Regions from separate parts of the Homo sapiens genome. Here region 1 is reported to be linked to region 2. The links are microRNA targets in miRTarBase. Many come from high-throughput screens and were not tested one by one. Region 2 holds a microRNA gene; the other region holds the end of a gene's coding sequence.

Region 1 (5,381 bases), not on the chromosome of region 2:
GGCTCTGCGTGTTTCCTGGGATGGCAGAGGGGTGGCCCCCACCACCTTAGCGGATCAAGGCACAGTAGTTACTGCTGCTGCCCTCTGAGTCTGGGGGAGCTGGCCAGGTGGGGGATATGGGGCATTAAGACAGCCCTGATCTCTGACACAGAACAACAGGCCTGGGGCAGGGCTCATGCTGTTCTCCCTCTTGACCATCAGAACAACCACCTAACCACCCAGTGCCCAGCTGCCCAGGGCCCTCCTAGATCAAAGGGATGCCCTGCCCGTGTGGTCTATGACTCCACCCCTGCTCTAACCACCCAGTGCCCAGCTGCCCAGAGCCCTCCTAGATCAAAGGGACGTCCTGCCCGTGTGGTCTGACTCCACCCCTGCTCTAACCACCCAGTGCCCAGCTGCCCAGGGCCCTCCTAGGTCAAAGGGACGTCCTGCCCGTGTGGTCTATGACTCCACCCCTGCTCTAACCACCCAGTGCCCAGCTGCCCAGGGCCCTCCTAGGTCAAAGGGACGTCCTGCCCGTGTGGTCTATGACTCTATCCCCGCTTTCTGCTATTTCCTCTTTCATGCAGAACCTCAAGTGCTAATTTGGACATTCTGGTTCCAACATAGTGGAGCAATGGGTTACATCTCTGTCTCCAAGAGAAAGAGAAGGGAAAAGACATAAGCACAAGGTCCACAGTTGTTCAGAGCATCTCTGTCTCCAAGAGAAAGAGAAGGGAAAGACATAAGCACAAGGTCCACAGTTGTTCAGAGTCAGGTTGCAAGTGGAGCCCCTGGTGACGGGCATCTGACAGAGAGCTGGGGCACAGCAGGGTTAGGGTTAGGATGAGGTTTGCAAGGAGCTCGAATGGTGGGAGAGCATCCTGATGCCCAGCAGCAGCAGGGAACCAGAAGGAAGGGGTTTCTGCAGACGGATCAAGGAGGCTCACTGATTCCCAGAGACCATTACCCTTCATATGTCCAGGCCCCTGGCTTGAAGACCAGCTCTCCTCATCCCACTATGAGGTTGGCCAATGACTGTCCCTACTCCAGCCTGGTTTGTAATTACAGACAGGCAAACGTGAGTCTCCAACAACAGTTAAAAAAGAAAAAAAAAAAGAGATACAGCAAGAAATGAAAGATCAACATGATCAAACTGATAAATCACCTCTAGAGGAGTAAGTCCCCACATCCCTTCCTCTTTCTGGCCGTTTCCTTCTTTGTTCAAGGAAGGGCCAGAATCCACGTTCCCACCTCCGATGAAGTAAAATTTTTAAAAATTCTAATTAGGATCCTCAGAAAAGTCTATAGTACTGCAACCACAGAAAATAACAGTATATGCAGGTGTGATGATTAGTACTGTGTCAACTTGATTGGCTTGAAGGATGCAAAGTATCATTCCTGGGTGTGTCTGTGTGGCTGTTGCCAAAGGAGATTAACATTTGAGTCAGTGGACTGGGAGAGGCACACCCACCCTCAGTCTGGGTGGGCACCATCTATTCAGCTGCCAGCTCGACTAGGATAAAAGCAGGCAGAGGAACACGGAAGGACTGGACTGGCTGAGTCTTCCGGCCTCTATCTTTCTCCCATGCTTTGCTTCCGGCCCTCGAACACAGGACTCCCAGTTCTTCAGCTTTTGCACTCTTGGATTGACACCAGTGGTTTGAAAGGGGTTCTTGGGCCTTCAGTCACAAACTGAAGGCTGCACTGTCAGCTTCCCTACTTTTGAGGTTTTGGGACTCGGACTGGCTTCCTTGCTTCTCAGGTTGCAGATGCCCTACTGTGGGACTTCACCTTGCGATCCTGTGAGTCAATACTCCTTAATAAACTCCCTTTCATATATATATATCTATCCTATTAGTCCTGTCCCTCTACAGAACCCTGACGAATACAGCAGGAAGGAAAATTCAGAGATCAGTAAAGAGAGCATGAAATTATCTTAAAATATATAACTGCCAAAATAAAAAATTGGAAGGCAGAATGTAAAAAATATCCCAACAAGCACATACAATAAAAGAGAAAACATAAGCTCTTTGGGAGACTGGTCCCAGAATTTCAAGATCTAAATAACATCTGTGCTCTGAACAGATAACTGAGAATGAAAAAAAAATATTTTCTGCCCCTTAGAAAGTTGAATGTGGGAAAATTATGCCAAAAACGTTAACCGCAATCTTCAAGGCCCTATTCTCTTATGTACTTGGAGCCAGCCACTTCTCCATTTGTCCATTCCAATTTCACATTTATTAATGAAAAATAATGCCTTCTCTACATCTATTGTGACTGTCACAGAATCAAGCAGTAATACAAATATTTGCTGAAAGTAAACACATGATGTTAATAAAGAAAAAAGGTTCTTTTCTTAAGATTTTGAAAAGAACATATTCAAGAATTGGAATCCTACACAGGATGCAGAAGCAATGCTAAGGATAAAATATCCTGACTACCTTTATTGACATGATTTGTGTTTACCAGCTCATTAAAATCTATGTTTCAAATTCCCTGGATTTTCCCAAGTTCCAGACTGGTAAAAAGTATTTTTACATACACATTTGATGCTCACATTACAAACTTAATATCTATAAACTTGAAACTTGTTTTGCACAAGTCTATGGCTTTACTACTTTTCAAGACAAAAGTCACATATTAAAATACAAACTACTCAAAAGCAAATAGTTGTCAAGAATGTGGTTTACAAGACAGATCTTACAGATAATACAGACTATATTATGATTTATCTGTTTGAAAACAGAAAGTAGTGTATTATACTGAATTCTGGTATAAGGTGCGCAGGAAACTTTACTTACAATCCTTTATTTTCATAAGGTAAACACCAAAGTATTTCTCACATATATTACCACCAGATTTTTTTTAAACCAAATTCCGGTTTAAAAATCACACACTGACAACACAGAAATACGAAATGCTAGGAAAAGTCTAGCATATGAAGGAAAAACATGTCTTATGCATTCTAATATAATTTTTTACAATCTAGCATAAAGGCAAATGCGGTTTTTTTAAAAATGCAGTCCATATACAATTATAGAAAAAACATTAGTCAAGCCACCTAATATAACCAATTTCACAGATAGCACTCATTTAATATAATGTCCAAAAATTTCCAAGTAAGTGTCTACGTATCAGTTAGAATAATGCCCACAAGGATCTCCAAACTACAAAATATCAGCAAGTAAATGAAAATCACACATTTCTCTTTGAAAGACTGAAGCTTGACTATGAGTTAAAAGGCAACAACTATGAACTAACTTTCTTTAAAATGACTTAAACTGCCCAATCTAGAGCAATACATGTTTCCTAGCTATACATGCAAACTGGACTGTGTGGTAAAAATGACTCAGTTACTTAAAAAAAGCAGAAAAGATCCAAAATAACCAGAGCTCAAGCTAAGCTGGTGAAACCACAGAGACACTGAAGCCCAGCAACTCCCAAGAAGCTGAGGATTAAGATTAAAAATAAACTCTGGATACTGAATCCTATATCAACACTCTGAATTTATATTTATTGTTAGTAATTTCTATTATTCTTTTCTTTGGGTAAAAAAAAATGTTTTAAAAAGAACCAATGTTTTGGAATAAGCAATGTAACTCTGATCATTCTGCTATGTGACTACCAAAAAGGCTGTTGTTCTTTTAGCCCTACCACTTGGTAAGATAGAAAGCTCTCCACACACAAGGCCCAGAGAAGGCTGATATCACAAGTCAGTGTGAGTTACACTCTTCTCATGCAATGGAGCTACTAAAATACATACATTTGGTCTTACAAAAAAATTACAAAACTAACAAATCTTTTTCTCCAGAATTATAAAAGATAGAATCTATGAATCAGTACTAATGTGATCACAGAAAAATAGCAAACTGAAGTCAAAAAGCACAGGCTGCCCATCATAGAGTCCCCAGTCTATTTAATATTTTCGACCTGCTCTGAGGATGGAGGGTGTCAACACCTTAGAATACCATGATGGGCTTTAAAACTGGGTAAAGAATCATCCCTAGGGTTAGGGCAAATGTAACTTCACTTATTGCTTACACACAGGAAAAAATCTGTTTCCTTTTCCAAGATATTCTTTTAAGGATTACTTGACAGTGGTTCTTTTAAAGGTATCAAAAGATGTCCTAAAAAAAAAAAAAAAAACCCTCTTTGGAATTCTCTCGGAATTCCAGAAAGATTATCTGGCAATTCATTCCTCCACCCCATCAAAATTTTTCCTTTGAAAAATTACAACTGGCAACTCACATAAGATTTAATCAACTTACTTAAAATAAGGGAGGGCTTCTCAATAATGTTTCCCCACTAGAAAACTAAGAAATTCAGTGATACTCAGTGCCAGTAATTAAGTGGTACATATCATAAAAATTCAAACTTGGACGCAGGTGCGTCACACCCAGAAAAGATTTTATACATTTATAAGCTTGTGCTTTCACACTTTATAAGCAACACAGGTTAGTTTCCACTTCAGTTTTCATTTTTAGTGAGTACCGTGCATGTTGCATGAGGGACGGTCATCAAACAGTCTCTCTTACGCAGACTTCAGTGTTTCGTCAGAGCCGAAAAAGAAACAGCCTTCTCTTTTTCTCTATGAAGATTCTCTCCACTTTGGGAAAACAATCTTCTATGCAATGAAGGTCTTGTGGAACTATGTAAACAAATCATACAACTGAATAGAATTTTAGAGGTCAATCAGGAACTAGAAGAAAACCATGGTGTGGATGAGCCCAGCAGTTCCCTTCCCCACAACGTCTGCCTCCAGGTGACCCTTCAACAGCACACAGGCAGCACGAACTTCACACTCAGCAATCTGCTCTTCCTATTTCCCCCTTTCAAACAGGAGACTTATTTTTCTCTGTAATAAAGCAAGTAGTATTTCAGGGGATCTGGCAGAGGGAGGCTCAGGACCTTCTGGCGTAGGAAGTTCACTGGGGGGTCTGGCTTTGTTTCCGGCGGGGTCTTCTCTTCTTCTTCCCTCCGTTCCTCTTCCAAGTCTTCACAGCTGTTGTCATCTGAGGGGTTGGAAATCCGACTGGCAAAGACTTCTTTGTCCAAAAAGACAATCGTTTCCATTCGACGGCGGCGAACTCTCCTTCGTTTAAACCTGGGGGTGTTCTTTAGTCCGTTTCCGTTTTTGCTCACAGTTTCCTGATGAATAATCTTTTTAATGGTGCCCCGGATGGCGATGCGAGCCAAGTCCTGGAGGCTGCGAACTGCCACTGGTGCTGCAGCACAGAAGAGTGAGACACAGTCAAATGCATCGGAGTGACACCACCACAACGCCTACACACCTAAGACCCGTAGCATCATTTCAATTAACTGGCAAATTTATGAATATGTTACAAGAATATGAGAGCATGCTAAGCAAATGTCAATTAGTGCTCTAATTTACAATCATA
Region 2 (5,381 bases):
GACCCTTGGCTTCTGCGTTCGAAGAGTCCTGTAGGTAACCCCCAGCTGATCCAGTTCAGTAGAGAAGTGATTGACTTGCTGAAAAGCCAGCCATCTTGTGTCATACCCATCAGTCATTTCATCCCATCCTATCACCATCATTTTGCAAAGCAGTGCCGAGTGTCAGACTACGGATACTCCAAGCTGATTGAGTTATTAGAAGCAGTGCCTCATGTATTGCAGGTAAGGCGTGTCACGGGATTACTTGTTTACAGGCAGGAATGTTCCTCCATGGCTTTGGCTGCCTCCATCAAAGAAACAGTTTAATTCCTAAGAAGTCAGTTCTGGGCAGAACATCCACTAAAAACTTTCTTCAGAGGGCAGGAATAACACACACAGGCGGCTTCTCAATTTTTCAGAACGCTGCTAGTTTCCAGTTTTAGAGGAACTCCTTGGAGGACTGAGGAGTATTTTCCCTCTAAGCTCTATAGACCTTCTTCATCCCAGCACAGCTTTCTCCAGAACTGTTCATGATTACAAGGAAGCTCCCATGAATAGCCACATACTTGTATGTTGGTGCCTATGTGAGAGTCAAGGGCTTAACCTTTCTTCTAAATTTAACTAGTTGGAGACAAGTTACTGGGCTAGAGTGTAGCACTGGATCCTATGAAGACTTTTACCAGTTAACTCACAGTGTTATAACAGCTTCCCACTCACTAAAAACGGCTTGAAAAACTTGTAGACCAATTTGTCTGGACAACCAATACAGTTTTCATTTCTGTACTCACGACTTTTCTTTTCAAAAGATTACACTTTTCATTTTTATACTCAACGACTGTTTGGGAGAAGGTGTGCCAGGCCAAAAACGATAAGAGTTTCAGAAGGCCTTGGACATTTGTTCCTTTTGACCAACTACATTTTGTTGATCGACATGTGTTTCAAATTGCACACATTCTACATAAAGGGAGTCATGCTCTGAGGCTAGTAACGAGAGGGTGAGCCAGCAGCAAGGAAGTCGCTGTCTGCTGAGGTCTTATGTGTATAAATAAACTATTTGCTTTGCAGATTCTTGGAATGGGCTCCAAACGTCTGCTGACCCTTACCCACAGGGCCCAGGTGAAGCGCTTTACTCAGGATTTACTAAAACTTCTCAAATCCCAGGCCAGCAAACAGGTCATTGTGAGAGAATTCTCACAGGCTTATCACTGGTGAGTTGATGAAAAGAACAGAAATGAAAGTAAATATTTTAGGACATTTTATCTTCTGCCAAACTCTAAATAGTTATCTAGTATTTCTATTAAGCATTCTTTTGGAAAACTTGTAGTAGTTTTTTGTTTTTTTTTTTTTTTTTTTGAGACGGAGTCTCGCTCTGTCGCCCAGTGGCACGATCTTGGCTCACTGCAAGCTCCGCCTCCCGGGTTTATGCCGTTGTCCTGCCTCAGCCTCCAGAGTAGCTGGGACTACAGGCGCCCGCCACCACACCCGGCTTATTTTTTCTATTTTTTAGTAGAGACGGGGTTTCACCATGTTAGCCAGGATGGTCGCGATCTCTTGACCTCGTGATCCGTCCACCTCGGCCTCCCAAAGTGCTGGGATTACAGGCGTGAGCCCCAGCGCCCGGCCGGAAAACTTGTAGTTCTTCTACCGATGATACTACTCATTCCGTATCCACTTCCGTTGTTAAAACCTAGGTGTTTCTCAAAGGACTGGGATGTCACTGAATATGGTGTTTGTGAGTTGATTGACATCGTATCAGAGATTCCAGACACAACCATCTGCTTGTCCCAACAAGATAATGAAATGGTGATTTGTATCCCCAAAAGAGGTATGTGACTTAACATTTGCTGGAAGGATATTGTCTATCTCCTGTTATTTTAACATAGTGTGGCATGGAAGATGTGGTTTTCCCTCCCTGTCCGTGCTTCCTGAAGATTCCACAGAAAGCACAGTGTGAAAACTGCTGCTCTTTGGATTCTGTGTTCTTCAAAGTAGGTGAAGCTGTTCTCAAGAACAAAAGCAGGCTGGCTTTTTAGAATTGACTCTAAGGGGAAAAAGGGGCATCATCAGCACTTTGCTCAAATGCCTTCTGCAGCCTGGCTGTGGCTACATGAGCCTTAGTCATCCAGTTGAGAATCTGTCACCGTGCCTGTTGGCTTTGCTCTTCTGTTGAACTCTGAGCTACTTTATTTACTGTGCACACTTGAGAAGGGAAGACAACTCGAATGTTTTTTTTTCTTTTGCCTTTCAAATTTTAATAGTTGAAGTCAGAACTGCACAGGTCCAGTTACGGGTAGAAAGTACAGTATTTGAGGGATGCGAAACTCATGGATACTGGGGGCCAATTTTTCGTGTCTGCAGTTTCCGCGGGGCAGACCGCAAGACTTGAGTAGGTGCGGATTTTGGTATCCAGGCAGGGTCCTGGACCCGATCCCTTGAGAACACCAAGGGGTGACTGTATGGTCGTATCCTCCTTCTATTATCTGGTTCTTAAACGGTGCTCCTGCAGAACATTGATGTCCATGAAATCATAGAATTCCAGGGCCCATTCTCACTTAAAAATTAATAGAAACAATCTCAGCTTAAGCTTTCCCTCCTGTTTATTTTTGTTCAACTTTTGAAGCCTGATTCTCTCTTCTGCTAGCAAGTTTTAACTGAAGATCAGATGAATAAACAAAAAAAGTGGGGATATTCAGAAGCGTGATTTCATGGGAATAATTTCTAGAGTACTTGCTTAAGTACAGGGACCTGGGTGTGTGTCATGTTAATAGATATGGGGCAGGGGCTAGAAAATTGTTTCTAGCTTATAAGATGACATTGTTTCTAGCTTATAAGATGAATATATATGAATTTCATAATATAATAATATCATAACTTCCTGGTGTTCTGCCCTGGAACATGTTTGAGAACCACTTGCAAAGAGGGAAGAGTATATGTGTTTGTTTTAGGTTGTGTGTGTTTGGAAGGCAAGGATGATATCGTTTATAAATTCCCAAAAGGATTTACTCTAGTGTGGATGTTGAACACAAATGGGTAGAAAAAAACTGTGATTTTATGTTTTTTGGTTTTTTTAAAAGAACGCACTCAGGATGAAATAGAAAGGACAAAACAGTTCTCCAAGGATGTCGTTGATTTGCTGCGTCACCAACCCCATTTCCGGATGCCCTTTAATAAATTTATCCCTTCTTACCATCACCACTTTGGCCGGCAGTGCAAACTTGCGTACTATGGGTTTACCAAACTACTTGAACTTTTTGAAGCCATACCTGATACTTTACAAGTGAGTGAAGAAATTCTAATTTTATAAAGTATTTTTCTGAACAACGTATAGGAAATACTTTTTCACGTTCCAGACCTGTTTTTCTGGGAAGTAGGGAGTTACGAAAGAGGATGAAAATCTAAGCTATTCCAGTCAGAGAAGCCATATTCCTGACTCATTAGTATTTTTAGATAAATATGGCTTTTTCCTTCAATAAAGGATTATTCAAACTTGTTTTGGGGGTAATTATTGAAAAAAAGATTCAGTAGGTTTTCTTTTTTTTGTTTGTTTGTTTTTGTTTTTTGAGACGGAGTTTCTTTCTTGTCGCCCAGGCTGGAGTGCAATGGCGCAATCTTGGCTCACTGCAACCTCCGCCTGCGGGTTCAAGCAGTTCACTTGCCTCAACCTCCCGAGTAGCTGGGGATTACAGGTGCCCGCCACCATGCCCAGCTAATTTTTCTATTTTTAGTAGAGATGGTGTTTCACCACGTTGGCCAGGCTGGTCTTGAGCTCCTGACCTCAGTTGATCCGCCTGTCTCAGCCTCCCAGAGTGCTGGGATTACAGGCGTGAGCCACCACACCTGCTGATTTCTTACACTGAATATTTGTTCATTACTTTTATACTTTTAAAATCCTTCGTGTTGAAGGTAGGTCTGAGTACATGAGGTAACATCAGTGCTAAGCTGTTCGCTGTTGCTAAGTTAAACCAAATTTCTGTTGTTGATTTTATTTTCTTTTTTTACTACTGAAGTGCTTTTTAAAAATTGTTTTATTGTGGCACAATACACATAACATAGAACTTACCTTCGTAACTATCTTTATATCTCCTGTCCAGTAGTGGTCAGCACATTCACATTGTTATGCAACCGATCTTCTGAACTTTTTCATCTTACACAACTGAAACTTTATACCCATTCAGTAACGCTGACTTGTTTTTTCATTACTAGCTGCATACTTTTTTTGCTATTCTGTAAACACCCGTGATTTGTTTATTTTCCCTTTCCTCCCCCCGTGTGTTTTCAAAGGTATTGGAATGTGGAGAAGAAAAGATCCTTACTCTGACAGAGGTGGAGCGGTTCAAAGCTCTAGCTGCCCAGTTTGTTAAACTCCTTCGGTCCCAAAAAGATAACTGCCTTATGATGACAGATCTCCTTACAGAATATGCTAAAACTTTTGGTTATACATTTCGTCTCCAAGACTATGATGTCAGTTCCATTTCGGCTTTAACTCAGAAACTCTGCCATGTCGTGAAGGTAAATGTTTTTTTTTTTTTTTTTTTTTTTCCCTCATGGGATAAAACTCACAGTGACCTAATTCTCATTAGGACGTTTGCGTGTGCTGTAGCGTTTCTTTATTTACACCTTGAACTACTTAACTGTCACAGCATTATGACTCGTTTTGTGTCATTAGTGCTTATTAGGTAATAGAAGCCTTGGTTTGGAAGTTGAGAGTTTTGGTCTTCCTCTTGTGTGTTTCTGAATGGCCTTGCCAAAGCAATGCCTTTGTGAACTGATGAGGTCACTCTTCACCCCAGGGTTCGGTCATGAGGTGCAGCTGCCTCAGCACTGCTGGCCTGAGCTTGACTCCTTCCAGTGTGAGTTTTGCCTGTGACGTTCTTGGGAGCCCGTAATCACACAGTGTCCTCTCCCTCCACATTCTCACCCACTTAGGAGTAGGCTTAGGAGCAAGCGAGGGTGCAGAGTGGCCTTTGTCACTGGCAGAGCTGTAGTAGAGAGGGCAGCTCGTGCTGTTTGCTGTCCTGGACTGCACTTGACCCTTCCTGTCCTAGGCAGAGCAGCTGCCAGTTTTCGGCCTCCTCCCCCACAGGACCAGAAGAAGTCACTGCCAGGAGGAAGGAATGGAAAGGGAAGCATGAAGGACGGCACCCTCAGTTACAGGCCCATTACTAGCTGCACACATTTCTGTGTCATTTAATTCCGTAAACAGCCAGAACGGGTTCACTCTCCCTTTCCTTCCCACTGTGGGGTTTTTTTGGAGTTGGAGTCTTGCTCTGTGGCCCAGGCTAGAGTGCAGTGGTGCGATCTTGGCTCACTGCAACCTCCGCCTCCCAGGTTCAAGAGATTCTTCTTCCTCAGCCTCCTGGGTAGCTGGGATTACAGGCGCCCGCCACTACGCCCAGCTAGTT

What was found. The annotated mature microRNA hsa-miR-6506-3p reads UCGUAUCAGAGAUUCCAGACAC and lies in region 2 at 1,727-1,748, shown strand. An mRNA with a match to its seed (bases 2 to 7 or 8) in the 3' UTR can be bound and repressed. Matches are read on the target gene's strand: a 7mer-m8 pairs with bases 2 to 8, a 7mer-A1 pairs with bases 2 to 7 and ends in A, and an 8mer does both.
Region 1: the mRNA of PCMTD2 is a reported target of hsa-miR-6506-3p. Seed matches in the 3' UTR shown: 7mer-m8 at 3,113-3,119.

The regions. Positions count from the first base shown.
Region 1 is chr20:64,273,047-64,278,427 of GRCh38, reverse strand. PCMTD2 (protein-L-isoaspartate (D-aspartate) O-methyltransferase domain containing 2) reads right to left here. Exons shown (of 6, transcript NM_018257.3): 6 at 2,202-5,207. The coding sequence ends at 4,828. It also overlaps the pseudogene IL9RP5. Among named protein-coding and RNA genes, the nearest start is that of PCMTD2, 20 kb to the right of the region's middle.
Region 2 is chr16:15,607,398-15,612,778 of GRCh38, reverse strand. It overlaps MIR6506 (microRNA 6506), which reads left to right and starts at 1,684; the gene lies at 1,684-1,749. It overlaps MARF1 (meiosis regulator and mRNA stability factor 1), which reads left to right. Exons shown (of 27, transcript NM_014647.4): 17 at 2-222; 18 at 1,045-1,187; 19 at 1,671-1,804; 20 at 3,054-3,256; 21 at 4,261-4,488. RefSeq lists an enhancer at 2,013-2,307.